2 separate regions of the Homo sapiens genome follow, and region 1 is linked to region 2. A link means that fine-mapping ties the variant in region 2 to the expression of a gene that starts in the linked region. Tissue or cell type: whole blood. Region 2 holds a variant in brackets; the other region holds the start of a gene. Each region is shown on its reference strand, or each on the opposite one.

What was found. PIP is the estimated chance that this variant, and not a neighbour inherited with it, causes the effect.
Region 1: ELL2 starts here. The variant in region 2 is fine-mapped to the expression of ELL2 in whole blood (TOPMed, PIP 0.99).

What each region holds. Positions count from the first base shown.
Region 1 is chr5:95,957,132-95,971,775 of GRCh38, forward strand. ELL2 (elongation factor for RNA polymerase II 2) reads right to left here and starts at 4,720. Exons shown (of 12, transcript NM_012081.6): 1 at 4,444-4,720. The coding sequence starts at 4,590. LOC101929710 (a long non-coding RNA gene) reads left to right here and starts at 4,870. Exons shown (of 5, transcript NR_130776.1): 1 at 4,870-4,905. It also overlaps a transcript of CAST not described here. RefSeq lists silencers at 4,134-4,543, 4,614-4,853, 4,809-5,276 and an enhancer at 4,572-5,329.
Region 2 is chr19:40,765,637-40,781,136 of GRCh38, forward strand. It overlaps MIA (MIA SH3 domain containing), which reads left to right and starts at 9,885. Exons shown (of 4, transcript NM_006533.4): 1 at 9,885-10,033; 2 at 10,116-10,249; 3 at 11,333-11,443; 4 at 11,761-11,854. The coding sequence starts at 9,907. The coding sequence ends at 11,784. MIA-RAB4B (MIA-RAB4B readthrough (NMD candidate)) reads left to right here and starts at 9,901. Exons shown (of 10, transcript NR_037775.1): 1 at 9,901-10,033; 2 at 10,116-10,249; 3 at 11,333-11,443; 4 at 14,383-14,463; 5 at 14,749-14,863. It overlaps RAB4B (RAB4B, member RAS oncogene family), which reads left to right and starts at 12,611. Exons shown (of 8, transcript NM_016154.5): 1 at 12,611-12,755; 2 at 14,383-14,463; 3 at 14,749-14,863. The coding sequence starts at 12,740. It overlaps RAB4B-EGLN2 (RAB4B-EGLN2 readthrough (NMD candidate)), which reads left to right and starts at 12,583. Exons shown (of 12, transcript NR_037791.1): 1 at 12,583-12,755; 2 at 14,383-14,463; 3 at 14,749-14,863. RefSeq lists silencers at 11,745-11,874, 12,425-12,664 and enhancers at 12,725-12,794, 13,682-14,213. The variant G/A (reference allele first, on the strand shown) is at 6,479.

The DNA of each region.
Region 1 (14,644 bases), not on the chromosome of region 2:
TTTTTTAAAAACTAAACTGACAGGCTCAGCAACAAAATCTGAAAATAATGCTTTGATATAGTTTTTGTTATAAAAGTAAGTTACTCAAACATCAAAATAAAGCCAGCAGCATTACTGAGGAACCTAGCTAAAATGTATTTTTAAATGTTGGATTTTAATTTTAAATATAGTTTTCCATTTGGGGGAAATATGTAATTACAGTAATATATGCTCATTTAAAATATGTAGAGCTTATGTAGACCACACAATCACAGATAACAATTTAAAATGACTATAAAGTTGTAATTTGTGATTTTATTTATTTAGCAACTTTTCTCCTCATTCAAAATAATCTACATTTTAAAAGGTTAATATTGTAGATATCTGTATTATCATGTCTAAATTTTTCTGCCAATCATGAAAATAACTTTCCAGTTAACATGATACACAATCAACTTGAAACCATTTCTGTATTCAAAGTGAGTAGCAAAACAACTTTTACAAGATATTTACTCCAACTATAACTCTCATTGCTGGACTCACAATGCCCCTCTGCCTGTTTAGAAAGGCTCCCAAGATCACTTCTCTAAAAATAGGGAACCTGAATAATGAAGGTCAAGTAGGATTATGTGTCTTTTGAAACAGTGAGGAATTGTAATTTGAAAAAAAACAAGATTTCAAAATTTTCATCAAATATTCTGTTTCCACAAACCCTTAGAACGCTGTAAATTTGCTCAATTACATCTAAAGAAGTTCTCTGTTCTGCCTAAATCATAGCTTCCTAAAATTTTTAAATTCACTTCTCTGAAGCCTTACGTCAAAGTGGGTTAATTTAGAAGGGTAACTCCAATAGACAAAATAATTTGGACAAAAAAAGAATTCTCTGATGCTTAATTTAGCAAATTAACCTGTTGAAATTTCTGGCTCTTAGTCATTAGAAGAGAAGGAGTAATAGTCATCACTTTACATAGGCCAGAGCTGCTTAGAGGCTACCTGCCATCAAGTACCCTCCTATATGAGTACAGGAATGGTGGCGGACAGTTTTATATGAGAAATTAAAACCATTTTCCCCCCAGAGAGAACAGGTTTGACCACTAGAAACCTCTTCCCAATTAGCCAATCCATGTGAACATGTTCCCAAACAGCAGCTTCAATTTAAAGTCATGAGCCCTATTTCTAATAACGATGGAAGACAAGAAAGACCAAATTAATATCCTTCCACTGGAGGATAAAAGCTCAGCCAGATGCCTACTGCTAGCAACTCTTACTGTGCCCATAGAGGTACACTGGTCTGGCTGAGTCAGGAGGAGGGGCACTGAGGACACACAGGTGGGTGGAGCCTGCAGTAAGTACCAACGGTACATTCAGTCACCAGAAAGGTATCTATCTCATTTTTTTGGTTTCTTCCCAGTTTTCATCCAACTGAGGTTGACAGTTTCACTCCAATTCCTGCTTGCTTGTCCACACCCCTTAAAAAGTGTTTCCATGGCTGAGCTGACAGTGAGTCCTGATAGGAGCTGGTTAAGGATGGTCAGCTTATGTACCATCCCCCGCATGCCACTGTTTCTACCACCAGTTTTGCAGGAGAAAAGGAATCCTAGGACTAATACAAGCTACTTGGCTCCATGCTTTAAGGTAGAGAGATCTGGGAAAAAGTCTTCCTCCTTTCCCTTTGCTGCCTCTGTAGAGACCAACCAGACCCATAAATGGGCATGTACAGAAATGGAAAAAGTACTAGAAGCAGTCAGAAGCAAACAAAGACATTGACGACTTTGGTACCTCTTAAAAAGTAATTTTTTTTTTTTAAATTAAGAACTAAGTGGTGGGTTGGCAGAGAAAGAATTTTTGATCTTCTGTCTCCTGGAAGCTACTGGTATATAAATGCAGGGGCTTTTAGAGCACTGTAAACTTAATCCCAAATATGAAAACACTAGGGTATAGGAAGCAGAAATGAAGGCCATACAAAGGTAGGAAAACAAAGCACTCCCTTCTGGGGCCTCCAGTGGTCATGCAGATCATGACCAATTACTGTCACTTCGCTTTCCCTTCCCCAAGTGGACCTCCTCATCTGCCCACTTTCCCCACAAGTGTACACTGTCAATCTTGCTGTAATCAACTGTACAGTTGCCTGTTGTTTTCCCAAGGTAGCTGGCTGACCTACTGCCCCCAGAGATGCCTCTTCCCACCCACTGTGTGTCAAGTCTTTCTCTGCTCCTCGGGTCTGCTCCTGAATAGGGGCTGGCCGCCTCCTGCTGACTTCTTTTTCTCTGGGCCTCTGGGTTTTCTCTTCACATCCCCAGACCTACCTTCTTCCCACTGCCATTCCTTCCCACGCCCTTCCCTTGGAACAGGCAAGCTTATCTTTCCATCTTGCAAGGCTGAGTTTCTCTCCAGAGTTTCTCTCCACTGTCTGCTTCTGTCCCTCTGCCTGTGTTTCTGGCTTCCCCCATATGGGCCTCCCACTCCGTCTGATGCTGGTCTCTTCACTGCAGGTGCACCTATCTAAGAGTAGCTATTGGCACATGCAGTTTTCTATTTCTTGTATCTCTCCCAGCCATTCTTGAGATTTTCTCTCGAGATTTCACTGTATGTAGGACGGTACCTTTCTCCCTGTGCATGCACTCCTCCCTGACGCCCCCTCACCCCACCACACAAAGTCTGTGAGTCCTTTTCACCATATGCTTCTCTGGTTAGTAACACAAGTGTCCTAGCACGTACATTCATGTGTCCACCCAATTCTGTGAGTACCTTCCTAACAATACACTCACCTCTGAGCCTCCACTGCTGTTTACAAATACCCTATCATGTGAGTTCATTTTCTATCCAAAGCGTGCACAACTAATGCCTTCCTCTGTGTGCACACTTATGGGGTGGGGGGGCTCTCTGAATACACTCCCAGTAAACCAGGGTTCACACCTCTCCTGCCGCTCTGCCTCAGACTCTGCCTTCGCTCTATGTATTTAAAGTGCCTGGCACTAGTGGGAGCTCAACAGATGTCAATTCTTTTCCCCACTTTTAGCTGAATAACTATGTGAATCTGTGTCTCGGTGTCCTTCTGCCCCTCTGTCTGTTGTACGAGACCGGTTGGAGTGTGTTCCTCAGTACCGAACGGGCTATTTGTAAGATGCCCCGTGGGTTCTATCTCCCTTCCGACTCTCTCCTCTCCTGTAAAACGTTACAGGTTCCCCCATATGGCATATCCCTCCCTCACGCGATGTATCCACTCCGGTCTCCCACAGTACTGCATGTCCATAAACTGTTTCCCCATGCACCCTGGTTACCGCGTCCCTTCTCGGTGCTTCCCTGTCTCTCCCATTTTTTTTCCAACATGAAAGCGTCTGGATTTGTAGTCCAATTACAGTGTATGTGCGCCTATCTGAGCCTCTCTCTGTACTGGAGGGGTGTGTGTGTATATGTGTGTGTGTGTGTCCATGGGCTTCTCTCGAAAACGAGGGGTGAGAGGCCCGAGTCTCTGCCCGGGATGCATTGTATCCTCCCCACACCTTCTGGCTCTGGCTCGTTCCCCGTTTACACTTCCCAGAGTCAGCCCAAGACGCCGGGAGCTTTTTCGGGTACGTTGAGCGTCCGTGAACCTCTCTCTCCAGAACCCGATGTCTTGCTCCCGGGGAGCGCTAAGTGTGCGTGAGTCCTCAGGTCTCTCCCCAGGGCACTGTGTTGGTTTGTGTCCGTCCTGGACGCGGCGCGTCTCCAGTAACGCGATGCGCCGGTGTCCCGGAGTCCCTGGGAATGCAGGTGTGTCCCCTCCCCCCCCGTACGCGAAGCGCCAGTGTCCCCGCCGTTCCAGTGTGCGCCGCCCCCTTACACGGACTGCCTAAGTCCCTATCTCTATGAGTACACCGTGTGCCCCTCACCATGCGCCCGAGTCCCCATCCCTTCGAGCACACAGTGTGTCCCCTGATACGTGGAGCGCCTGTGTCCCCAAGTCCCTGGGAATACAAGGTCCCACCCCCACACGCGGAGCGCCTGTGTCCTGTCTCTGAGGATCCACCGTGCCTATGTAACTGGAAAACGCGGGCAGCTGGTGCCCGCGAGTCGTCCCTGGTTCCTTGCCCATACGCTGCTCGCTACCCTCCTTCCCCGCCGAGGGTAGCGTGGTCATCTCACTTCTCTTATCGGGGCCTCTCTCCCTCCTTGGGACCCAACAAGCCAGGAAATCCTCGGGGGCCGTCGGAAAGTCCCGCAGCGGCAGCGCAGCCGACCCAGGGCTGCGGCTGCCTCGGCCCCGCCGCCAGGGGCCGCCCGACTGCCCGCTTCCCCAACGCCCAGGCTAGCCCGGGACCGCGGCGTCAGCCACCCTGCCCGGCCCTGCCCTGCCTGGCCGCTGCGGGCGCTGACGGTAGCAGCTGCCAGCCACGGCTCCGCCGGCCCCGCACCCGGGCGCGGCCAGGCCGTGAGGGGTGCGCTCTGCCTCTCTGAGCCCAGCCTGCCGGCCGGCCCGCTCACCTTGTGGCTCTGGTAAGTCTCGAGCGCCCGGATCGCCGTCTCGGTGAGCTTCACATGCAGTACGGTGATGTTGTCCTGCCCCAGCCGTCCGCACGACAGCCCATAGCGCTGCTCCTCCCGCAGGCCCCCTGTCCCCCCCGCCGCCATCTTAAACTCCCCGGGGTGCCGCCGCCGCCGCCGCTCCGGCTCTAGCCTCCACTGCGGCCGCGGCTGCTTGGGCTTCTGCAGCCGCCGCCACTGCTAGGGCCATCCCGCTGCTGACGTACTGTCATATACTGCGCGGAGCCAGACCTCGGACTGCCACCGCCGCCACCCGCCCCACCCTCCGGCCCCGCGCCCCGCCCCGGGCTCGTCTCATTGGTCTTGTTCCCTTCAGAACCGCCCTCATCGGCCGCCCTCCACTCTCACGGGGGCGGGCCCAAAGTCACTAGAGTTTTGCTCCTGGGACGGGACGTCCGAGAGGTAAGAGGCTGACGTCTAGGTGACGCGCCAACTTAATCATGTCTGACGTCACGTCTGGTCGTCTTGGCTAGCCGGCCGAGATTGGCCAGGCTGGCTTGGGGACTCCCCTGCTAATTGGAAGTCCAGGTTGCCTGGTCTGGTTACCTGGAGTTGGAGCCCCGCCCCTGTGGGGGATAGTAGTGAAAAGTCAGAATTGGGGAATCTCGCCCTACGCGGGTGGTCCTTGGAGAGGAGGATCTCCACCTCCACTATGTAAGGGGATGGCCGTGACCAAATAAGGACTTTGTTCCCCGACGGCTGCGGAAGCTGTGGAACTTGGTGCGTGCGTGTGGGGGAGGACGCAGCAGGAGGACTCGCTAGAGAGCTGCTCCTCAAAACTCCTAGTACTGTAGTTGAGCAAACGGCATTGGGAGGAAACTGCTCACTCTAAACTTGAAGTTATCGGGTGCCACACGCAGAGCTTATAAAAACAAAAACAAAAACAAAAACCCTTGAAATTAGTGAGTCGACTCTTAGATGTAGGAGTTGTGTTAGATCTTGTGGAGCATCTTAAGGACAAAATCACGCGGGAGGTTAAATGCCTTTCGTATGGTGGGCATGGTATAATAGAGAATTGAGCTTCGAGGTCTTTCCTACGCCATGCCCTGTTGTGATTCTCTGGGATCACAACTGGTGGGGATGATATCTCCTTAAAAAGGACTCTAGAAGAAGAGTAAAACTGGCATTGATCTAAATTAAAAGAAACCTCGACAATTCTCATTCTCTAATTCAGTTTGAGTATTGTCCTTTTTATTTGATAGGGCTGTGTGAAAACCTAGCTAGGGTTTAAAGGTAAGAGGCTGTCGAGGTTAAGCGAAGGAGATGGGGGCGTGAGGGGCGTGCAAAGGCCTGGCATACTTTCCATTCCATCCACAGGATGCTTCCTGTGTAGGCGTGGCTAAAAGAGGGAGCCTAATCTGGAGTCCCTTTCAGATTGTGTGTGGATAGACTGACAGATGGGTTCCTGTCAGAGGATGGATTAATTGGTTGATCAGAAACACCAGATAAAACAAACCATTGAAAGCTTTCAAACTGTTGAAAGGCAGTTTAAAAAAGTTCTTTTAATAAAAAAACTGAGACGCTTGTTTTTACCCTCAGCTTATAAAACCATGTTCTGTTCTACTGGGATTCCCCGGGAAAGTTTATAGATATTTAATCAGTATTTTTCATTATTTTAAATGGATTAGGGCCATGATTCCATGTCCTCCCCTCCCAATAAATGCCTTCCCCACCGTACGGGTACACTCCTTTTTGATTCAGACCTTCAAACATAGTAGGTGTATAATGTGAATTACAGAATGAATTGGATTAAGTGGAAACACCTGTATTAAGTGTTACTCCATCACAGGAAAACAGTTTGTAAATTGACTTAATTTCAATCCACTAAGATTGGCTAGCTGTTAAGACGTGATTAACGCTTGCTAATTTCATTTACTTTAGTGATACAGTGTTATCTTAAATTCATGTAGTAGAGATATTAAGGTAATCATCAAATTGGATTAAAAAGTTTACTCTTAGAAGGGAAATAGAGGCTTTACTACCTAGTTTTCTCCGCTTTCCAAAAGTAGAAACCTTATTCAAATAGTTCATCTCTAAGCGGACTATAATCTAAAAATAATTCTGTACTTGAACTTTTCTTTTCTCTCTCTCTTTTTTTTTTTTTTTTTTTGATAGTAAAGGACTGAGCACATAGCTAAAGCCTTAATTATTTGGGAGGTGAGGGGGAAGGGAGGTTTGACCGGAACAAGTAAAACCTGTATCCCACTGCTTTTCCGGTGAATGTGGGTAAATCCCCACCCACATGATATCCTAACTTGGCCTACTCTTACTCAGAATTTCTGATGACATCCAAGCGGGTGGGGGAGGAGTAAGGATGGTTTTCGTTGTAGTTTTCAAATATCTGACCTGTAGCTTCTTACTAGTAATTGACTTTTTTTAAAAATTATAATAGGAAAATTTTTCTCATGCCCTATTTTAGTGGGTAACAAATCTTTCACGGATTAATATATTATTGTAGTGAGTTAATGGTTGTTTGTATTTTTCCCCTTTTGAGCTTTTCAACTGTGGAAGGAGGAAATGATCAAGTACAAAGTAATATGGTAATCTAGCAGTGTCTTTTCATTGATGTCTCACAGGCATAGTACACATTACGCCTGCCTGAATCAGATGGTCAAGTTATGATGCTGGTTAGGATAATTTATTTTGAGGAGGCTGATGAAAGGTGCTTTTTGGGAAGGTTGCCATTTTATACATATTTTCTGTATCTTTATCTGGTTTAAATAATTAAATAATCATTGAATACCAGTTAAGTATAACATGCGGTAGAGGATTTAAAAATTAAACTGTAAAGTCTCTAGAGGAATTTTCTGTTTCAGTGTGGCAAGTGAACCAGTATAGTCAAAGCAAAGCAATTAGAAAATTAGTAAATGCTAATTTGGACGGTGTTGGTGATAAGCTCAAAAATTCAAAGAAAGGAGAAGTCTGAAGAGGTTTAATGGAGGTGATAGAACTTGAACAGCTCTTGAGGGTTGAGTAGATTCTAGATAAGTTGGAGGTGGTATAGATGGAGACAGCCCAACTAAAAATGATCTTCATGATGATTCCAGGTGGACACATTAGTTTTATGAAGGAGGAACTGAGACCCCCATTTATTTAAAAGCAACCTGCCTAACATAACCAGGAGAGGCAGGGTCGGAATCAGCTCTTTAAATGTCCTTCCAGTCCTTATATACACTGAGTAGCTATGGATTAGATTTAATAACTGAGAAGAAATCTGTCATATAAGACAGTTCAGTGCAGGAAAAAGGCTAAAAGGAATTTGATGCAGGGCCTGCTCCATCTCTCATGTCTAGTATACAGTGCTGGCAAAGGATATGTGACTATCAAGGCCTTCTCTGGCATTCAAATGCTGGGCCACCCCTCATTCCAGGTTGCTGCATATTTAATGACTGTTTCTCACATCTTTGGTACAGAGGTCACCAATTCAGATGCCTTCAGGGACCACTGGATATCCAAATGAGTGAAAGAGGGCAGATACAATGTCATAGGGACTGAAGATGCTGGACGGTAGTGAGCTGGGAGGTTTAAAGGGCTCAGTGATTTCTTGGTTCAGCTGATTGTTGCCAGGTGAACATAAGGTGGCCCAATGTTGCCAGATCTTCTGTTTTTTTTTAAAGCTGAGAAACAAAGATTTTTATGTAAATCTCCTAATATTTATTCTGTAACACTTAAGTTAAAAATTTTAATAAGCATTTTCTGGACACTAAAAAAGTTTTAGGCCAAAGTTAGCCCACAGGTTTCTAGTTTTCCAAATCTGCTGTAGTGACTGCCAATGCAGAAGGGCATTCTGTCTTATACCTGTATTAGCAGTTTTGCAGGTTATTTCTTAAACTCATCTATACAAAAAGTTAATTCTTATTAATGTCTTAATACAAGGCAATGGCTTCTGTTACAAAAAGAGAACATAGAACCTTATAGAGTTATAGCACAGAAGCTCTCTCAATGTAGAATTTCCAGAGAGAAAATCTTTCCCTTTTAAATTCTCTTCCCCAGTGCTGCTTGCTCCCTTGTGCAATGGTTGTGTTTGACCCAATCATTACACTGCTCTCCCTTCAAGACTTTGCCCAGCCATGTACTAAAATCTAAAATGTACTAAATTTCCTTGCCTTGGGCACAATTGAAGTGGAAGCTTGATAGTTTTAAAAGTACTTCAGCAGATATTCATAGAGAATAAAAGTAAGATACCTATAGTTAGGGCATAGATTTTGTTATGTAAATACAGGTTTTAAGTTGAATAATTTTTATTGTATTGTGTGAATATTTACTCTAAGTACAAGAAATGTTACATTGCATTATTATTATTATCATCATCATCATTATTGCTAAATTTGGCTCTGAGTTCCCCATCTGAGTAGTAGGACAGTTAATTTACAAGTCATACAAAGGCTCCAGAATATATGGGGAGGGCTCTCTAATCTAGGTCCATCTCTGCTGGTATAATCCTTTAGAGGCTCAAGAGTTTCTTTTTAGGAAGGGTTTGGGATGGAGCGCAACCTAGATAGAAGGAAATAGAGGACCTGAATTGAAAGTGTGTTTGTAGAGCAAACATACTGTGTTTACTTATGTTGTGTATTTTTATGGGGGTAGGGTTAAGTGGCACTGATGGGGATTATGAGAAGGGAGGCTAAAACCCTCCCTAGCCTTGTAATATGATGATGGACCATGTCCATATGATTTTCTGAAAGGAATCGCTTATCTGAGAACTTTGCTGAAACTGGCAGCCCTGGGGTTCTAGCCTCAGCAAAGTCAAGCCTCCCTCCCCAGGTGTATACTTATTGAGGTACTGAAAGGACACTGGACTTGGGCTGTGCACTTCCTGGGGCTGGCAGCCTCTGCTTCTTCCCAGGATTAGGAGGTGTTATCCCATCTGGGGACATCTACCTGTACACTTTCTTAGTCTCCAAAGTTCCTTTCTCTTTCTAGAAGAGTCTGGTTATTTAAAAAAAAAAATTGTGATTTGGAAGTAAGGAAAGTCCCTCCTCCCTTCCAGTTCAAAGCCCTTCTTCACTCTTAATGGGGCTGAGTAGAAGGCTAGGTGGCCAGGGCTATCTCTCCTTTCACATGTATTGAATACACATGCACGTTAGCTTCCTAAGATGGAGATACTCAGTCTTCATTAATACCTTTTTAGCTTTTTTCCCCTCTCTCTATTCCTTGCCTTTCTCCACATTAAGAGCAGTCTCTAGAAAGTTGTATGTCCTTTGGAGGCAAAAGGACTCAGATTTGATTCCTCTAAACACCAAGAAAATTCTCCCCTTCTTCCCTGATTGAAGAAAATGTCCTGTCCACAGAACTGAACTATGTCCAGCATAGTGACCAAAGTGGCCATTCTCCCAGATGATAATTGTTTTATGGCTATTCAGTGTAGTGCAGAGTGCCCTGAAAGATATCATATAGGCTCTGAAAAGGAGAAGAGTGGTAAAGAGTGACCTAACAACTCTTACCATTTCCATGCTGTTTTGTACTAAAAAGGAGCAAATGTATTTCTGAATAAACTGAGGAGTTAGGAAGACATGGGGTGGGGAGGGAATGTTTGTTTAGCCTTTCACTTTTAAACATGCTAATAGTGGACCAAATGCCATCAGCCTCAAGAATGATTTTGATAATTAATAATAGCTTATTCTTGTCAGGTGCAGTTGTGTGATACTGTAGTCCCAGCTACTCAGGAGGCTGAGGCAGAAGGATTCTTTGAGTCCAGCAGTTTGAGGCTGCAGTCCACTATGATCCTTCCTATGAATAGACACTGCATTCCAGCCCAGACAATGTAGTGAGACCCTATCTTTAAATAAATAAATAAATAAATAAATAAATAAATAAGTAAATTGATGTGGTTTGGCTGTGTCCACACCCAAATCTCATCCTGAATTGTAGTTCCCATAATCCCCAAATGTTGTGGGAGGGACCCAATGGGAGGTAATTGAATCATGGGGACAGTTACCGCCATGCTACTGTTCTTCTAACAGTGAGTGAGTTCTCACAAGATCTGATGGTTTTATAAGGAGTTTTCCCTCTTTGCTTGGCACTGCTCGTTGCTGTCGCCATGTGAAGAAGGACGTGTTTGCTTCCCCTTCCACCATGATTGTTAGTTTCCTGAGGCTTCCCCAGCCACACTGAACTGTGAGTCAATTAAACCTCTTACCTTTATAAATTACCCAGTCTTGTTTATGTCTTCATTAGAAGCATGAGAACAGACTAATACATAAATAAAAAAGCTTATTCTTGATGGGGTTTTGAAGTTTAAAAGCAATTTAGTTACACTATCTCTGAATTTTCTGTGTAACTCTGAGGTAGCCATTGTTTTATACTATAGTTACCTTTTAGGTAACTGAGGCGCAGAAAGGGTATGTATCACTCACTTGATAAGTGACAGAGCCAGGCTAGAACCTGAGATTTCCTTTTCCAAATCTCGCATATCTACCTTTGAACATGGCTATAAGGTCTGAGGAATTATAATGAATGTGTCAGGTTATCACAGTGAAATTAATAAAGAGAAAATGGTTGGTTCTACTTCCATGGGCAGGTTGGGGGCTGGTTTTTTTGTTGGTCTTGAAAGCAAGACTTAAGTCATTTGAATAACTCTTTCCACACAAACACCCAATATCCTTCTAAATAGCAACAAGGCAAATAAAATGATCCATTCAGCTTTGGTTTATTATAGCTAGCATATTGACTTTAATGAGATTTATGAAAGTTAATTCTATTTTTATGTGTGGTATATATAATTTGTGATATATTAGAACCCTTGGTATAACAAATATGCACAGCGCATAGGTGCCCATTTGAAAAAGCTCAGATTATGATTTTAAATTATTGGAAAGATTTACAGTTGATATATCTTTGTTTTTATTGCATGTTGTTCATATCTGTCGCTTATTTAATAAGGAATCTTTGGTCAAATACACATCCCCTATAATATCACTCTTCCCGCGGGACTGTATCTCTCACTTTATGACATGGTTTCCACAACATGTCATGACAAAAAGCAGAGAAGAAATATATCAACACATACGGACACAGAAGACTTCTTTGTTTTGACTTAGAATTGTAGCCCTAGCTGATTTCATTGTATTCTCATTCAGCTGTTTATTCAAGTATCATATTTATCATCTTTGATCTTTGCATCTGTTATGGCCTCCAATATTGGGAACGTTTGCTTTTGCCTTGGGTTTTGGAAAATTAAAAACCAATATGACCCTTATAGGTTAGAATATTTACAGAATTAGAAACAAGCAGTATAGTCTAATAGAGGATGTAAGAGGTGAAGATAAGACCTACTAGGTGAGAAGCACTATGCAGGGACTAATTCAGTGATGGAGGAGTTATGGATTGTGAGAACATATTCAGCTCAGGGTGTTGGGAAAAGCTCCATGGAAGAGTTAGCACTGGAATGTCAAAGTTTTCTATCTGCGATAATGGGAGTATTAAAATATTCTAAGTTTAAGGATCTTATGAGCTATCATACGGTGTTTTGGGGGAAAGACAGTAATCTGTTTTCACAGGAATATGTGGTGCTCGAAGGTGATTGTGACAGATGGAGCCAATAAAGATGGATTGGGGACAGATTGTGAGGAGAGCTTTTAGTATTGGGTTAAGGAATATGGACTTCGATCTGTGAGCAATGGGGAACTGTTGGAGGCTTCCGAACAGGAAGTAGCATGATCTAATCTATATGTTAGGACTGTTCAGGTGACAAAAGTATAAGTAATGGATTGGAATGGATTCACTGTTGTAGGCAGTTATTGGGAAGCCTGAAGGCACTTTGATTTGGGAAAGTAAAGGGAACAAAAGAGATTACTATGGGGAAAGTAAGCGGGGAGACCAATGATCAGAGGAGGCTCTGTATCATTTGGGAATTTGAAATAAGGTACTACAAGTGGAGGGGGAGTGATTATGACAAAAAAGAGCAGAGTTAGGAGGCAAAAAGTAATGAGGCCTTGTACTAGGGTATTAATGATGGGAATGGAGAAAAGGAGAAGAATATCATGGCTCTGTGAAGGTAGAGTTGGCTGATTTGGCAGCTTTATTTGAGTATGAGAGGTGAATGAGCATGAGGAATTAAAAGTAACTACTAGCTTCAAGTTTGGTTTACTAGAAGATAATATTATATGAAAAGAAACAAGGGAATCAGGAGAAAGACCTTGTTTAGGTTAGCGGTATCAGTGGATTAAATGTCTGGCAGGCATTTGAAAATGTGAGTCTTAGGCCTCAGAGTCAACCTATTGAGTAATAGTAGAGATTGTGAAATTGAGCAAGTTTTCTGAGGGAGGTTATGAAGAAAGAGGATGAGAAAAAGAATTGGGGAATATTCCTAAATTTCATGCCCACTCTAATGGCAACACACTTCCTTCTTATTTAGAATTATGACTATGGTGGGCCACTCTTACTAACACAGGTATCTTATGCTTGAGGGATGTTTGCATGTATCCCTGTGTATATTTCCAAGATTTTCCTAGTGATAACATCACTCTAAGTCACTTGCTTCACGCATGTTTTTTGAGTGAAGGAAAAAGCTTTGGAATTAATAACCACTCCTTAGGCGTTGCACTTATTCGGTGCACACCCATCGTGATGTGTTGACCTTGCTTACCTTACTCATTGGGAATGGCAGAAAAGGCCATTCACTGTTGTAGGCAGTTATTGGGAAGCCTGAAGGCACTTTGATCTGGAAAGTAAAGAGAACAAAAGAGATTACTAGGGAGAAAGTAAGCAGAGAGATGAATGATCAGAGGAGGCTCTGTGTCATTTGGGAATTGGAAATAGGGTACTGCCAGTGTAAATAATGAACAATGTGAAGCTTAAATGATAATTTGCAACAAGCATTTAATGAAAGATCATTGCTTTTGGTAGTAGCCACATATTGAATAAAGTTTGCTGAGTGTGCACTGAATATTATCTGTCCTAAATGACTCAACATTTCAGTTTGATCCTAGGGAATGTTATGCATCTGGAAAAGGAAAGGAATACATTTATCTCTGAGAGCCGATATTATTGCATAGTACTAACAGAGATAAGGCCACTTTCAAATTGTCATAGCAAATGAACTTTAATGATGACTAATGAATAGAAATGTGTTTAATAACCTGTGATCTGATTTTAGAAGCTGGGCTATTAACTGAGAATAAGGAGAACTGCTCTCTGTTTCTGATTCTGTCCCTCTAATCTTTGCCTTGAATAAATCACTCATGTATAAAATGATTCTGGATAATTTAAAAGCATCAAGTATTTGAATTGTGACTTTTCTCTCCAATATTTCTCAACTAAACCAGCACAAAAAATATAAGAAGTATAAGGTATAATTTGATTTACCTGCAAAAAGAGTATTAGCCTCTAATGGGGATTATCCACATTTCTCAAAAACAACAGTTCATAATGTTGATGATCTATTATGACTGTGACCCCTGATGAGTATACTGAGACTGGAGTCAACAGATTGTATTAAACTTCAATAGCATAGAAAGCCAAGCATCATGATTTAGCTTTGTCAAGTGTTGAAAAATTTTGTTTTTACATAGAGGAAGAAGTCTTTCCTAAATAGATTCTGACTTGGTATATTGACTAAGTATATTTGCCTCATTTTTAGGTTCCTGAATCTCTTTTTTAAAGTTTGTATCTTGTGTTTTTAAAATTACCCTATATTTTACATACTCATTGTAAGCATATAGGCTTGCACAGATTAATTAAATGTAATTTTTGAATATTTGCCAAAACAGAAGCATGGCATTGGAAATGTACTTTAAAAATAGAAAATTTGAAGGCACTTTTGAGTTTGCAATGACAATTATCCCAGAAAATTTACTATAAAATATTTAAGTGTTAGCTCAGGTAACCTTTTTAAAATGTATTTTTAATTTACATACAGTAAAATTTACTCTTTTTGGTATATATTTTATATCAAAAATTCGACAAACAGAACAATTCTATTACCTCCTCGAAGGAACTCCTTGAAAATACATTGTCCCTTTGTAGTCAGATCTTCCTGCCACCCACCCTTAACCCCTAACAACTACTGATCTATTTTCCATCACTATGGTTTGGCCTTTTCTAGGATGTCATACACATGGAATCATACATTATGTAGGCTTTTGAGTCTGGCTTCTTTCACTTAGCATAATGCATTTGAGATTCATCCGTGTTGTTGCAG
Region 2 (15,500 bases):
TAGGCAGGATGGGTACTGCACAAGAATGGCACCTTTTAAGGGCACACCATTCACTTTGTAGGCTTACAAGTTTATGCCACCACTTTTCTAACAGATGACAAGAGTGTTCAGGGAGAGGTGTTTCTTCACCTTTTTTTTACTCTTCTCAAAAGTGCAGCCTGTTGTAGCAATGGCCCCAGAGAAACCACAGTAGGTAGTTCAAACAGAAAGGAATTTAATACAGGAAACTTGGTGCTGCTGAAATCATGGGGCGTGTGGGTGGTAGGAGTGGCGGTCTGGGTTTGAGACTCTTGAGTTCGAGTTTGCAGCCCCCGAATGAGCTCCTAGCTAGAGTTCAGCGGGATGCCACTCTGGCTTCCGGCAGTGCCTGGACTCATTTGGTCACTCCTGGGAAGCTACTGACTTGATGCTGGTATGAGGGGTGTGGCCGCCTCACACACAGGTGATCTACTTTCCTGGCCAGTGGCCAGCCAGGAGCTTCAGGCAGGTGCCTGACCCCAATTCCCCTGCAGTGTCTAGCTGCAGGGAAGTCTAGGATATGTGACTTCTGGCTGTACAGCCACAAACCCAGCTGCAGCTCTGGATTAGAAAGGGAGATTGGGCAGGGTGGCTCACGCCTATAATCCCAGCACCTTGGGAGGCCGAGGTGGGCAGATGACGAGGTCAGGAATTCCAAACCAGCCTGACCAACATGGTGAAACCCCGTCTCTATTAAAAATACAAAAAAAATTAGCTGGGCATAGGGGTGCGTGCCTGTAATCCCAACTACTCAGGAGGCTGAGACAGGAGAACTGCTTGATCCCAGGACGGGGAGGCTGCAGTGAGCCAAGATTGAGCCACTCCACTCCAGCCTGGGCCACAGAGCGAGACTCAAAAAAAAAAAAAAAAAAAAAAAAGGTTGAGTCAGGCGTGGTGTCTCACACCTGTAATCCCAGCACTTTCGGAGGCCGAGGCGGGCGCATCACCAGCGGCCAGGAGTTCAAGACAAGCCTGGCCAACATGGAGAAACCCCATCTCTACTAAAAATACAAAATTAGCCAGGCGTGGTGGTGTGCTCCGGTAATCTCAGCTACTTAGGAGGCTGAGGCAGAAGAATCATTTGAACCCAGGAGGCGGAGGTTGCAGTGAGTCAAGATCGTGCCATTGCACTCCAGCCTGGGTGACAGTGAGACTCCGTCTCAAAAAAAAAAGGGAAGGGAGATTGGTTGGGGGGACCATCCTTAGGAGTTTGTCACATCCCTGTCCTGGGGAATTTTAAATTGACCAAAAATAATATGCACATGGCCCGGTGCTGTGACTCACGCTTATAATCCTAGCACTTTGGGAGGCCGAGGTGGACAGGTTGTCTCAGCTCAGGAGTTCAAGACCAGCCTGGGCAACATGGTGAAACCCCATCTCTATTAAAAATACAATAAATTGGCCAGGCGTGGTGGTTCATTCCTGTAATCCCAGCACTTTGGGAGGCCGAGGTGGGTGGCTCACCTGAGGTCAGGAGTTTAAGACCAGCCTGGCCAACATGGTGAAACCCCGTTTCTACAAAAATACAAAAATCAACCAGGCACGGGTGGCGGGTGCCAATCCCAGCTACTCGTGAGGCTGAGGAGGGAGAATCGCTTGAACCCGGGAGGTGGAGATTGCAGTGAGCCAAGATCACGCCATTGCACTCTGGCCTGGGCAACAGCAAGAATCTGTCTCAAAAAAAAAAAATTAGCTGGGCATGGTGGTACACACTTGTCCCAGCTACTTGGGAGGCTGAGGCATAAGAATTGCTTGAACTTGGGAGGCAGAGGTTGCAGTGAGCCGAGATTGCACCACTGCACTCCAGCCTGGATGACAAAAAGAGTGAGACTCCATCTCAAAAAAAAAAAAAAAAAAAGTGTGTGTGTGTGTGTGTGTGTGTATATATATATATATGCGCATGCGCATATTACTTAAGACCCTTTCTCACACCAGGTACATGGAAAAAGGCAATCTTTTGGCAAAAAGTAGATCTACCACTAAATACAGTAGGCCAGGTGCGGTGGCTCACGCCTGTAATCCCACCACTCTGGGAGCCAAGGTGGGCAGATGACGAGGTCAGGAGATCGAGACCATCCTGGCCAACATGGTGAAACCCTGTCTCTACTAAAAATACAAAAATTAGTTGGGCGTGGAGGCGCGTGCCTGTAACCCCAGCTACTTGGGAGGCTGAGGCACGAGAATCGCTTGAACATGGGAGGCGGAGGTTGCAGTGAGCCGAGACTGCACCACTGCAATCAACCAGCCTGGTGACAGTGAGACTCTGTCTCAAAATAAATACATACATACATGAATACAGTAAAACATACTAAATTTTTCCTTGTTTTTTGAGATGGAGTCTTGCTCTGTTGCCCAGGCTGGAGTGCAGTGGCATGATCTGAGCTCACTGCAACCTCCGCCTCCCAGGTTCATGCGATTCTCCTGCCTCAGCCTCCTGAGTAGCTGGGACTCCAGGCACCCGTCACCATGCCTGGCTAATTTTTTTTTTTTTTTAAGGCGGGGTTTTGCTCGTCACCCAGGCTGGAGTGTAGTGGCGCGATTTCTGCTCACTGCAATCTCTGCGTCCCGATTCTCCTGCCTCAGCCTCCTGAGTAGCTGGGATTACAAGTGCATGCCACCACACCTGGCTAATTTTTGTATTTTTAGTAGAGACAGGGTTTCACCATATTGGCCAGGCTGGTCTCCAACTCCTGACCTGGTGATCTGCCTGCCTTGGCCTCCAAAAGTGCTGGGATTACAGGTGTGAGCCACCGCGCCCGGGCTTTTTTTTTTTCTTTTTTGAGACAGAGCCTCACTCTGTCACCCAGGCTGGAGTGCAATGGCATGATCTTGGCTCACTGCAACCTCCGCCTCCTGGGTTCAAGCAATTCTCCTGTCTCAGCCTCCTGAGTAGCTGGGACTACAGGCACCCGCCACCATGCCCGGTTAATTTTTGCATTTTTATTAGAGACGGGGTTTCACCAAGTTGACCAGGCTGGTCTCAAACTCCTGACCTCAAATGATTCACCCACCTCGGCCTCCCAAAGTGCTGGAATTACAGGCGTGAGCCACTGTGCCTGGCTAAACATACTAAATTCTTATTTTCCTGCCAAGGCTCTAGGCCCAATCCTGCTCATGCCCTGCTCTCCCTGTTCACGAGGAATGTCAATATTAAAAGCAGTGAAGATACAGGGCACCCCATGCAGACCTCCTCCACTTGTGATGGGAAAGATGGGAACGACAGGAATTGCCCTCTGCAGTAAATGACGTTTATTGCTGACAGGCAAGGGGAAACATCTCGCCCACCATACTGGCAACCACAGGCCTACTGGCTATTAAGTATGTGCGTTCCGTGGTCAGCTGGTCCTGGTTTCTGCTTTCTGGGGACTTCATAGCTGTTAGCCCATGGGCAGTTGATGTCCCCAGTCTGAGTTTTGTTTACTTCCTGTGTAAAGAGTAGTCCCTCTATATTAATACCATGATGATGTTTGTACTCATTACCCATCCCCTAGCACACACTCTCTCCCTTTCAGTCACTTAGCAAGCACTCAATAAGTTCAGCAAATATTTGCTGGGTACCTATTGTGTGCTGCATACTTTTGTAGGGACAAGGTATGCAGTGATTAATAAAATAGAGAATTTCCAGTATTGTGTTGTGATGAAAACAAAACTGATGTGGTGGGGCCAGCATACTGAGAGGCCGAGGTGGGAGGGTCGCTTGAGGCAAGGAGACCAACCTGGGCAACAAAGTGAGACCTCATCTCTACAAAAAAAAAAAAAAAATTAAAAATTAGCCATGAGTGGTGGCATGCTAGTTGGGAGCCTGACCCAGGGGGTTCACTGGAGCCCAGTTCAAGGCTGCAGGGAGCTATGATGGTGCCACTGCACTCCAGCCTGGGTGACAGAGTGAGACCCCATCTCCAAACAAAAAACAACCTAGGCTGGGCCAGGCACAGGGGCTCACACCTGTAATCCCAGCGCTTTGGGAAGCTGAGGTGGGTGGAACACTTCAGATCAAGAGTACGAGACCATCCTGGCCAACATGCTGAAACACTCTCTCTACTAAAAATACAACAACAGCCGGGCGCAGTGGCTCATGCCTGTAATCCCAGCACTTTGGGAAGCCGAGGCGGGCGGATCACGAGGTCAGGAGATCGAGACCATCCTGACTAACCCGGTGAAACCCCGTCTCTACTAAAAATACAAAAAAATTAGCCGGGTGTGGTGGCGGGCGCCTGTAGCCCCAGCTACTTGGGAGGCTGAGGCAGGAGAATGGCGTGAGCCATTCGGGAGGTGGAGCTTGCTGTGAGCCGAGATCGCGCCACTGCACTCCAAAATCCAGCCTGGGCGACAGAGCAAGACTCTGTATCAAAAAAACAAACAAACAAAACAACAACAACAACAACAAAATTAGTTAGACGTGGTGGTGCATGCTTGTAATCCTAGCTACTTGGGAGGCTGAGGCAGGAGAATCACTTGAACCTGGAGGTGGAGGTTGCAGTGAGATGGAGGTGCAGTGGCACTGCACACTCCAGCCTGGGTGACAGAGCAAGACTCCAAAAAAAAAAAAAAAATCCTGATGTGAAGCGGGTGATGGGGTTGGGAACAGTAATGAGTGGTCCAGAAAACCCTTCTGAGAAGGTGCATTTGAGCTGAGCTCATGGTGCTTGGTGTTGGGTTTGTAGACATGGCACAGACCTAGTCTTCATCCCTGACAAACTCTTCCCTGGCCCCAAGCCTGTGTGTGTCCATCCTCTTCTAAAAAAAGCTTGGACTTGCCAGTCTAGAGGTGAGGGTCCCTGGGAGCAACGTGGACCCTCTGGAGAAGGACGCTTAGCCTGTGGATCTCCGAAGCACACTTTGGAGGTGAGAGATGAAAAAAAAGAGGCCGGGCACGGTGGCTCACCTCTGTAATCCCAGCACTTTGGGAGGCTGAGGTGGGCAGATCACTTGAGGTCAGGAGATCGACACCAGCGTGGTGAATATGGTGAAACCCGTCGCTACTAAATATACAAAAATTAGCCAGGCATGGTGGCACGTGCCTGTAGTCTCAGCTACTTGGAGGCTGAAGCAGAATTGCTTGAACCCGGGAGGCGGAGGTTGCAGTAAGCCGAGATCATGCCACTGCACTCCAGCCTGGGCGACAGAGTGAGATTCTGTCTCAAAATTTTAAAAAATTAAAAAAAAAAATTGTGCTTCTCAGTGGCCCTGCTCCTGTGGCTGCAATATGGAGGAAGAGTACAAAGGGTGGGTACAAAGACTGGCCTCTGTCTTGCTGTTGGGAAATCCAGCTGCCACGTTGTGAGCTTGTGTCTGGAATTGGTTCCTTCTGGTGGGTTCTTGGCGTCGCTGACTTCAAGAATGAAGCCATGCACCCTCGCAGTGAGTGTCACAGTTCTTAAAGATGGTGTGCCTGGAGTTTGTTCCTTCAGATGTTCAGATGTATCTGGAATTTCTTCCTTCTGGTGGGTTTGTAGTCTATGCTGAGTTCAGGAGTGAAGCCACAGACCTTCGCGGTGAGTGTTACAGCTCATAAAGATAATGTGGACCTATAGAATGTGCAACAGCAAAATTTATTGCAAAGAGCAAAAGAACAAGGCTTCCACAGCATGGAAGGCGCCCTGAGCCAGTTGCAGCTGCTGGCTAGGGTGGCCTGCTTTTATTTCCTTATTTGGTCCCACCCACATCCTGCTGATTGATCCATTTTACAGATAGCTGATTGGTCCATTTTACAGAGTGCTGATTGGTCTGTTTTACAGAGTCTGATTGGTCCGTTTTTACAGAGAGCTGATTGGTGCGTTTACAAATCTTTACCTAGACACAGAGCGCTGATTGGCGTGCTTACAATCCTTTAGCTAGACACAGAGCGCTGATTGGTGCATTTACAATCCTTTAGCTAGACAGAAAAGTTCTCCAAGTCCCCTACCTGATTAGCTAGACACAGAGCACTGATTGGTGTGTTTACAAACCTTTAGCTAGACACAGAGTGCTGATTGGTGCATTTACAATCCTTTAGGTAGACAGAAAAGTTCTCCAAGTCCTCACCGGCCCAGAGGCCCAGCCATCTTCACCTCTCAAGCTGTCTGTAGAGGTCCACGTGTCAAGAAAACTGAGGACAGAGGCCCTCAGTCCAGTTCCCACAAGCAACTGCATCTCCCCAACAGCTGCCTGAATGAGTTTGGAAGCAGTCCTCCCACCATTCAGCCTTCAGATGAAACTGCACCCCTGGCTGACAGGCTGATTGCAGCCTTATAGCAGACCTTAAGCCTGAGACATTCGACCCACAGAAAAGGTGATAATTTTGGTCTTTTTTTTTCTAAACAGGTTCTTGCTCTAGAGTGCAGTGGCACGATCATGGCTCACTGCGGCCTCTACATCCTGGGTTCAAGTGGTCCTCCCACCTCAACCTCCTGAGTGGCTGGGACTACAGGTTTGTACCACCATGCACAGCTAGTTTTTCTCTTTTTTTCTTCTTTTTGTA[G/A]GTACAAGGGTCTCCCTGTGTTACTTAGGCTGGTCTCAAATTCTTAGGCTCTAGCAATCCTCCTGTCTCAGCCTCCCAAAGTGTTGGGATTACAGGCATGAGCCACTGCACTGGGGCAATGTTGGTCTTAGGCTAATTATGCAGCAGGAGATACATGCACTGTGCTTTGGGAATTGAAGTCACTTCTATTTCTTTGTGGCTTCATCAGTAATATGGGGCAGGGGGCACGGTTCCCACAGCTGATTCTTGAGTGTTCTTTCTGAGTATCCTTAATACTTCACACACTATCATATATCTGAACTTTGTTCATTGATTATCTCCCCTTTAATTTTCATTCCTTGATGAATCTCCAGGGTCTGGATTAAGTCCTAGGATACTTTATGTACTCATGAAATCTTCAATGAATGAAGAAATGATTTTTTTTTTTTTTGAGACAGAGTCTCACTCTGTCACCCAGGCTGGAGTGCAGTGGCATGATCTTGGCTCATTGCAACCTCCACCTCCCAGGTTCAAGCAATTCTTCTGCCTCAGCCTCCTGAGTAGCTGGGACTACAGGCATGCGCCACCATGCCTGGCTCATTTTTGTATTTTTCAGTAGTGACAGGGTTTCACCATATTGGCCAGGCTGGTCTTGAACTCCTGACCTCAGGTGATCCACCCACCTCAGCCTCCCAAAGTGCTGGGATTACAGGTGTGAGCCACTGCATCCGGCGGATTTTTTTTTTTTTTTTTTTGAGACAGGGTCTCACTCTCTCGTTCAGGCTGGAGTGCAGTGGCGTGATCTTGGCTCACTGCAGCCTCCACCTCCCAGTTTCAAGTGATTCTGGTTCGGCCTCCCAAGTAGCTGGGACTACAGGTGTGTGCCACCATGCCTGTCTAATTTTTGTATTTTCACCACGTTGGCCAGGCTGGTCTCAAAACTCCTGACCTCAAGTGATCCGCCTGCCTCAGCCTCCCAAAGTGCTGGGATTACAAGAGTGAGCCACCATGTCTGGCCTGAATGAAGAAATAATTTTTTAAAGAGTGTTTTAAAGTGGGGCCGGGTGCGGTGGCTCACACCTGTAATCCCCACACTTTTGGAGGCCAAGGTGGGTGGGTCACTTGAGGTCAGGAGTTTGACACCAGCCTGACCAACATGGTGAAACCCCATCTCTACTAAAAATACAAAATTAGCTGGGCATGGTGGCAGATGCCTGTAATCCCCGCTACTTGGGAGGCTGAGGCAGGAGAATCACTTGAACCCGGGAGGGGGAGGTCACAGTGAGCTAAGATCGTGCCATTGCACTCCAGCTTGGGTGACAAGAGCGAAACAATGTCTCAAAAAAAAAAAAAAAAAAAAAGAAATTGCATTTCAAAGCCAGGTGCAGTGGCTCACACTTATAGTCACAGCTACTTAGGAGGCTGCGGTGGGAGAATAGCTTGAGCCCAGTTGTTCAAGGCTGAGTGAGCTGTGATTGTGGCACTGCACTCTAGTCTGGGTGACAGAGTGAGACCCTGCCTGTAAAAAAAAAAAAATCTTTCAGGCCAGACGCGGTGACTCACTCCTATAATCCCAGCACTTTGGAACGCCGAGGCGGGTGGATCACCTGAGGTGGGGAGTTCGAGACCAGCCTGGCCAACATGGACAAACCCTGTCTCTACTAAAAATACAAAAATAGCCGGGCATGGTGGCACATGCCTGTAATCCCAGCTACTCGGGAGGCTGAGGCAGGAGAATTGCTTGAACTCGGGAGGTGGAGGTTGCAGTGAGCTGAGATTGTACCACTGCAATATGAGACTCCATCTCAAAGAAAAAAAAGAAAAAAAAAAAAAGATAGCATAGCAATGGCTGTGGGCCTGGATACAAGTCTTAGCCTCTCCACTTCTCCACTTCCTGGCTCTGTAAGCCTTAGACAAGTTCCTTAACTCCACACTTCCATTTCCATGTAACAAGGGGTTATAGGCCAGGCATTGGTGGCTCATGCCTGTAATCCCAGTGCTTTGGGAGGCCAAGGCGGGAGGATACTTGGGGACAAGAGTTCAAGACCAGCCCAGGCAGCACAGTAAGACATTGGCTCTAGAAAAATAAAAATAAAAGAAATCATCCAAGAATGGTGACTTGCCTACTATTCTACTCGAGAGGCTGAGAGGGGAGGATTTCTTGAGCCCAGGAGTTTGAGGATGCAGTGAGCTATGATCACATCACTGTACTTCAGCCTGAGCAACAGCAAGATCCTGTCTCAAAAAATTAAATTAGGCTGGGCTTGGTGGCTCATGCCTGTAATCCCAGCACTTTGGAAGGCCATGGTGGGCAGATTGCTTGAGCCCAGGAGTTTGAGACGAGGCTGGGCAACATGACGAAACCCCGGCTCTACCAAAAAATACAAAAAATTAACTGGGCATAATGGTACATGTCTGTGGTCCCAGCTACTCGGTAGGCTGAGGTGGGAGGAATGCTTGAGCCCAGGAAATAGGGGCTACAGTGAACCAGGATCATGCCAGTGCACTCCAACCTGGGCAACAGAGCAAGACTCTACCTCAAAATAATTATTTAAAAAAATGGATTAATTGGGCATAGGTGGCTTGTGCCTGTAGTCCCAGTTACTCAGGAGGCTGAGGTGGGAGGATTGCCTGAGTCTAGGAGGTTGAGGCTGCAGTGAGCCGGGATGGCACCATTGCACTCCACCTGGGCAACAGGGTGAGACCCTGTCTCAAAAAAGAAAAAAAAGGGAGGGGTTATAATCACTCCTCCTGACATGATACAGAGTATCCATTTGAGTTCATAACATAAATATGTACTTGGTGAATGCTCTGTAACTATTGGCTTTTTTATTGTTCCCATTTTACATATAAGGAAGCTGAGGCTTTGTGAGGAGAAATAGCTTAGCCCAGGTCATCCAGTGGGAAGCGTCTGGTGCAGAGGAATAGTGATCATGGTGGGACTTTGCCTAGCCTAAGGTTCAGCATACAATATTCAGTCAGTACTCAAGGGCTGGGCTGTTTCTGGTAATCAAAGGGCTGCCTTGTTCTCCTGCCCCACAGCACAGGAAATTCCAAGGTGGTTTTCTTTACAGGCTCCTCCGCTTCTGTGGCCAGAGGGGACAGCGGAGGAGCCCAGGTACCTAAGCCAACTCAAGAGAAGATGGAATTGAATATTTCAACCACCTTATCTAGGCCTCTGTGATTGTTGAGGAGGGGGCTGTCACTGGGAAAGTTGTGAGCTGCTTTGGACCTTATCTGGGAATTTCCTTGGGCTTACAGCCTTTACCCTATCCTTGAAATGGTTCTGGTTTCATAGCAACTTCTAGGTGGTGTGGGCGAAGTTTGGGACTGGTTTAGGGCGGGGACAAGACCAAGAACACAAGTTTCCTTGTACTACGGGAGAGAGGGAGGGGAGGAAATTGGAGACCCCAGCACCCCCTTGCTCACTCTCTTGCTCACAGTCCACGATGGCCCGGTCCCTGGTGTGCCTTGGTGTCATCATCTTGCTGTCTGCCTTCTCCGGACCTGGTGTCAGGGGTGGTCCTATGCCCAAGCTGGCTGACCGGAAGCTGTGTGCGGACCAGGAGTGCAGCCGTAAGAATGGGGAGGGGAGAATTGGGGGCTTGGGCGTTAGCCTGTGTGGAGGGTGCTGCATTCCCTTCTATTCCTTCCCTAGACCCTATCTCCATGGCTGTGGCCCTTCAGGACTACATGGCCCCCGACTGCCGATTCCTGACCATTCACCGGGGCCAAGTGGTGTATGTCTTCTCCAAGCTGAAGGGCCGTGGGCGGCTCTTCTGGGGAGGCAGCGTGAGTCTTGGGAGAGTGAAAGAGGGAAGGGTACAGAGCTGGGGTAGACTCATTATCCCCATGAAGGGAAGATTTGAGGGGGGTGAACTGAAATAGACATTGTGGGGGGATATTGTTACTTACTTTATTTTATTTGCTTATTATTTTTTAATTTTTTCCGAGACAGAGTCTTGCTCTGTCACCCAGGCTGGAGTGCAATGGCACGATCTCGGCTCACTGTAACCTCCACCTCTTGGGTTTAAGCGATTCTCCTGCCTCAGCCTCCCAAGTACCTGGGATTACAGGCATGCACCACCACACCTGGCTAATTTTTGTATTTTTAGTAGAGACAGGGTTTTACCATATTGGCCAGGCTGGTCTTGAACTCCTGACCTCATGATCTGCCCGCCTTGGCCTCCCGGAGTGCTGGGATTACAGGTGTGAGCCACTGCCCCCCAGCCTATTTTCACTTTATTTACCAATTTTAGGACCTGATATGGTCCCACGTTCTGTTCTAGACACCAAGATACAACAACAAATGATCCTTTTTATTCTAATGGAGGGAAATGAACAAAAAGCAAGGCATAAAAAATAGCAGCAGCCGGGCACAGTAGCTCACACCTGTAATCCCAAGTAAGGCCAAGTTGGGAGGATAGCTTGAGCCCAGGAGTTCGAGACCAGCCTGGGCAACATAGCAAGACCCCCATCTCTATAAAAAAAAATTTAAAATTAACTGGGCTTCATGGCATGTGTCTGTGGTCCCGGCTACTCGGGAGGCTGAGGTGGGAGGATTGCTTGATCCCAGAAGTTGAGGCTGCAGTGAGCCGTGATCATGCTACTGCACCTCAACCTGGGCGACACAATGAGACCCTGTTTCCAAAATAATAATAATAATAAAAGCAAATATGCGCTGCTGTGAGAATTAACAGAGACTTACTTGGGTGTTCAGAAAGGGCCTCTGAACAGGTGGCATTTAAGCTGAGATTCATATGACAAGGATGGAGCAGTTATGTGGAGATCAGGGAGAAGGGAGAATGCAAAGGCCTTCAGCAGGCACAAGCTTGCCATCTTCCCAGACCCTAGCTTTTAACTCCTCTTCCCCAGGTTCAGGGAGATTACTATGGAGATCTGGCTGCTCGCCTGGGCTATTTCCCCAGTAGCATTGTCCGAGAGGACCAGACCCTGAAACCTGGCAAAGTCGATGTGAAGACAGACGTGAGTGTCATGGGGGCTGGCAAGAAATGTGGGGGGAGGACCCTTAGGTTGTGGGGATGGGCAAAAATGCTCCCACACTTGGCTCCCTGGCAGCCTAGGTATGTGCGCTGGGAGAAATTCTTTCCCTGCCTCAATTTTCTCACCAGTAAAATGGGTCCAGTTGGGAGGTGCAAAGATTAGAGGGCTCTAGGCTAATTTGCATAGCACTTGTGTGGCCAGACCTGGGCCCTGCAGCTGCAGCCTTTGCTAAAACCACTAGATCCTTTGTGGTGTGACCGCTGGTTTTCTTTCCACTGTTTCCCCTTTCTCTTTTTCAGAAATGGGATTTCTACTGCCAGTGAGCTCAGCCTACCGCTGGCCCTGCCGTTTCCCCTCCTTGGCTTTATGCAAATACAATCAGCCCAGTGCAAACGGCTCGTCTCCGTGGTCTTTGGGGTGGGGTAGGGTAGGGTGGGGACTGTACAAATGAAATGTTTCTCTAGGTTGCTGAATCTAACCAATTAACCCGCTGCCTGTGGTAACGTCAGTGGTTGCTAGGCAGAGTTTCACTGATGAAAGCCCTGTGCAGTAGGAGCGCTCCTAAGCTTAGGTTTCGGACACAAGCAAAGGAAAACCTAAGCAGCCCAACTAGGGGATTGTAGTGTCCTCTCTAGACCAGTGGGAGGGAGCCAATCGGACTACGCGGAGGATATAAATCGCACAGTAAAGGTTTTCTTGGAAGATTATCTGGAAAGGGAGGTGGGAAGTAACCTGCGCCTATCTGCCCAGTTTTCCTCCTTTTCGCCTTTGAGAACAGTAATCGCTCCCGCCAGCTCAAGATCAGCTCCTCTTCCAGCCTCTTTCTGTCAATCCTGCCCGTGCCCCCTTCTTTGCATTTGTATCCCCTCCCCCAAGTCCGCTCCGATCCAATCCGGAGACTCGACTCTGCCCCCCGTACTCCAGACTAAATCCGTTCCTCGGCTCAGCTAAGCAGCTCTGCACGTCCCTTCCCACTTGCTCAGCCAATCGCTGGGCTCGGCCCCGCCCCTTTGGGCTTGGTCCTTCTCACGCCACCAATCCGCGCCTCTTGTCCCGCCCCCTGCCCGCGAGTCCGCCAATCCCGCCCTTCGGAAAGCGTCGCCTGGTATCCAGCTGCCGGAGCGGGTCGCGCCGGAGGGGGGCGGAGGCGGAAGTGGCGGTGCCGGGCCCGGGGAGTAGGAAGGAGCCGGGGCTGTAGCCGGAGTGGAGCGGCTGCCAGCCGAGGAGCAGGCGCGGCCGCGGCGCCATATTGCGGCCCTCAGCGGCCGCGACCGAGTCATGGCTGAGACCTACGGTGAGGGTGGTGGACGAAGCTGGGGTCCTGGGTCTGGGCCCAGGGAGGATGCGGCCTGTGGGAATGGGCGGGGCTTTGTAGATCAGGGGGCGGGGTCTGGTGTGATGGAGGCAGGACCTAAGTGGATGCTGGGAGGGGTTTAGTGGGTCTGAGGCTGAGCTTAATCGATTTAGGTGGAGCCTGAGGGTCTGGTGCGTGGGTTAAATAGATCTGGGGCGGGATTTGAGGGAGCTGGTCCTGAGGGGTTCAGGGAGGCCCTGAGGGAAGAGGTGGGCCTTAATGGATCTGGGCGGAGCCTGAGTGAAGGGGCGGGGCTGACTGCATGAATGGCAGGAGTCGGGCTTATGGGCTAGAGGGAACACTGAATGGAAGCTCGGGACCCTGGGGCTGATCTGGCTGGAGAGAGCTCTGGAATGGGTTTGGGGATGGGCTGTCCTTGAGTTAGGGGCAGGACTTAGTGGCAAAGGGTGGGACTTATGCATGAGAATGGAGCCGGGTTCTGGGCAGAGGGAGGGAAGGAGAGGTCGGGAAGTGGAAAATCAGTAGGGATGCACCATAGGAGGTGGTGATTGGAGGCAGGGGAAGTGCAGGTTTAGGAGTCAGAGGGAGCCGCATTCACTCAACAAATATAGAAGAGAAGGGAGAAGAGTGCAAAGACCCTGAGGTGAGAACCAGCTTGTCATTTTCAGGGAATAGACTGAAGGTCAGGAGCTATAGTGGAGTGAATGAGTCAGAGGGTGGTAGGAGGTGAAGAGGAACAAGGGCTATATCGTAGTCCTTGTTTAAATAGCTTTCAAGAGACTTTAGCGACAAAATAGCTAAGATCTGGGACTCTGGAGCCCTTGGCCTAGGTTTGAATCTCACTTCTGCCCAGCTGTGTCACTTTGGGCAAGTCAGTTAACCTTTCTGGCCTGTTACCTCATCCGGAAAATGGGAATAATTTTTAGTCTACCTCCCTCATAGAGTTTTCCTGAGGATGATGTGAGCTGTTGATGTGAGTAAAGACCTTTAGAACTGTTCCTGGCCCACAACAACACACAATTGACCCATGTAACAAACCTGCACATGTGGGCTGGGCGCGGTGGCTCATGCCTGTAATCCCAGCACTTTGGGAGGCTGAGGCAGGCGGATCACCTGAGGTCGGGAGTTTGAGACCAGCCTGACCAACATGGAGAAACCCCGTCTCTACTAAAAATACAGAATTAGCTGAGTGTGGTGGCGCATGCCTGTAATCCCAGCTACTCGGGAGGCTGAGGCAGGAGAATTGCTTGAACCTGGGAGGTGGAGGTTGCGGTGAGCCGAGATCGCGCCATTGCACTCCAGCCTGGGCAACGAAAAGTGAAACTCTGTCTCAAAAAAACAAAAACAACGACAAAAAAACCCCTGCACATGTACTCCCTGAATCTAAAATAAAAGTTGAAAAAAAATATATAGAATGTGCCTGGCACATGGCAAGTACTACATAAGAGTTATCTGTTACTGTTACCTATTGGTTTGTTTCTGCCTATGTCTGTTTCTCTCCCTCTAACTGTGATGGTTAGAGAGAGAGATTGGATTGGAATCCATCTTTTTTCCCTGTATCTTTCTCTCCCTGTGGGTATCCCTGATTTTGGCTCCATCTGGTCAGACTTCCTCTTCAAATTCCTGGTGATTGGCAGTGCAGGAACTGGCAAATCATGTCTCCTTCATCAGTTCATTGAGAATAAGTGTGAGTTTCCCGCAGTGGTCCTGGGAACCCTGAGCTGTGTTTATGCGCATGGTGTGGGCTGGTGGGCAGCCGGTGGGGAGGGCAGGGCTGGCCATAGGTACAAGTCCAGTGCTGGCTTTTTGGTCCTTGCTTTGTCGTATGTCCTTTACTAGGTTCTCCTTGACCTCAAGTCACTCCAGCAAGGAGAATGGGTTTGTAGAGACTGAGAGGGCCTTGGAGGATGGGGGATCCTCTGAGCTGTCTCCTCTCTCCCTGTACTGCCCCTTCTGTTCCTCCTACTCCCAGTCAAACAGGACTCCAACCACACAATCGGCGTGGAGTTTGGATCCCGGGTGGTCAACGTGGGTGGGAAGACTGTGAAGCTACAGATTTGGGACACGGCTGGCCAGGAGCGGTTTCGGTAGGTGGGCTGGGCTCCCAAGGGTGATGGGGAGAGAGAGTGAGAAGGAAAGAGAGAGATGTGTGTGTAGAGTCACTTGGAGACACTGAGAGGGCAGACAAGGCAGACAGAGAGAGATGAGACACCGTAGTTAGCAGGTATATATATCCAAGGAGAGAGGGAGTACTGGAGAGATAAAGAGATGGTGGAAGAAAAAGAGGTAGGGGCCAGGCGCAATGGCTCATGCCGGTAATCCCCGTGCTTTGGGAGGCCATGGTGGGAAGATTGCCTGAGCCCAGGAGTTTGAGACCAGCCTGGGCAACATAGTGAGACCCCATCTCAAAGAAAGAAAAAGAGATAGAGAAAAGTGGCTTGGGGGTGGGGAAAGGGATGGAGACTGAGAGACACCGAAACAGAAAGAGAAGGGGAAACTTGAGAGACTCACACTCAGAAAGGAAAAGAGCAAGAGAGACAGAGACTAAGAGAGTTGAAGAGAATGATAAGGGAGGTAAGGAGGCCTGGCACGGTGGCTTACACCTATAATCCCAGCACTGTGGGAGGCTGAGGCAGGTGGATCACTTGAAGTCAGGAGTTCAAGACCAGCCTGCCAATATGGTGAAACCGTGTCTCTACTAAAAAAAAAAAAAAAAAAAAAAAA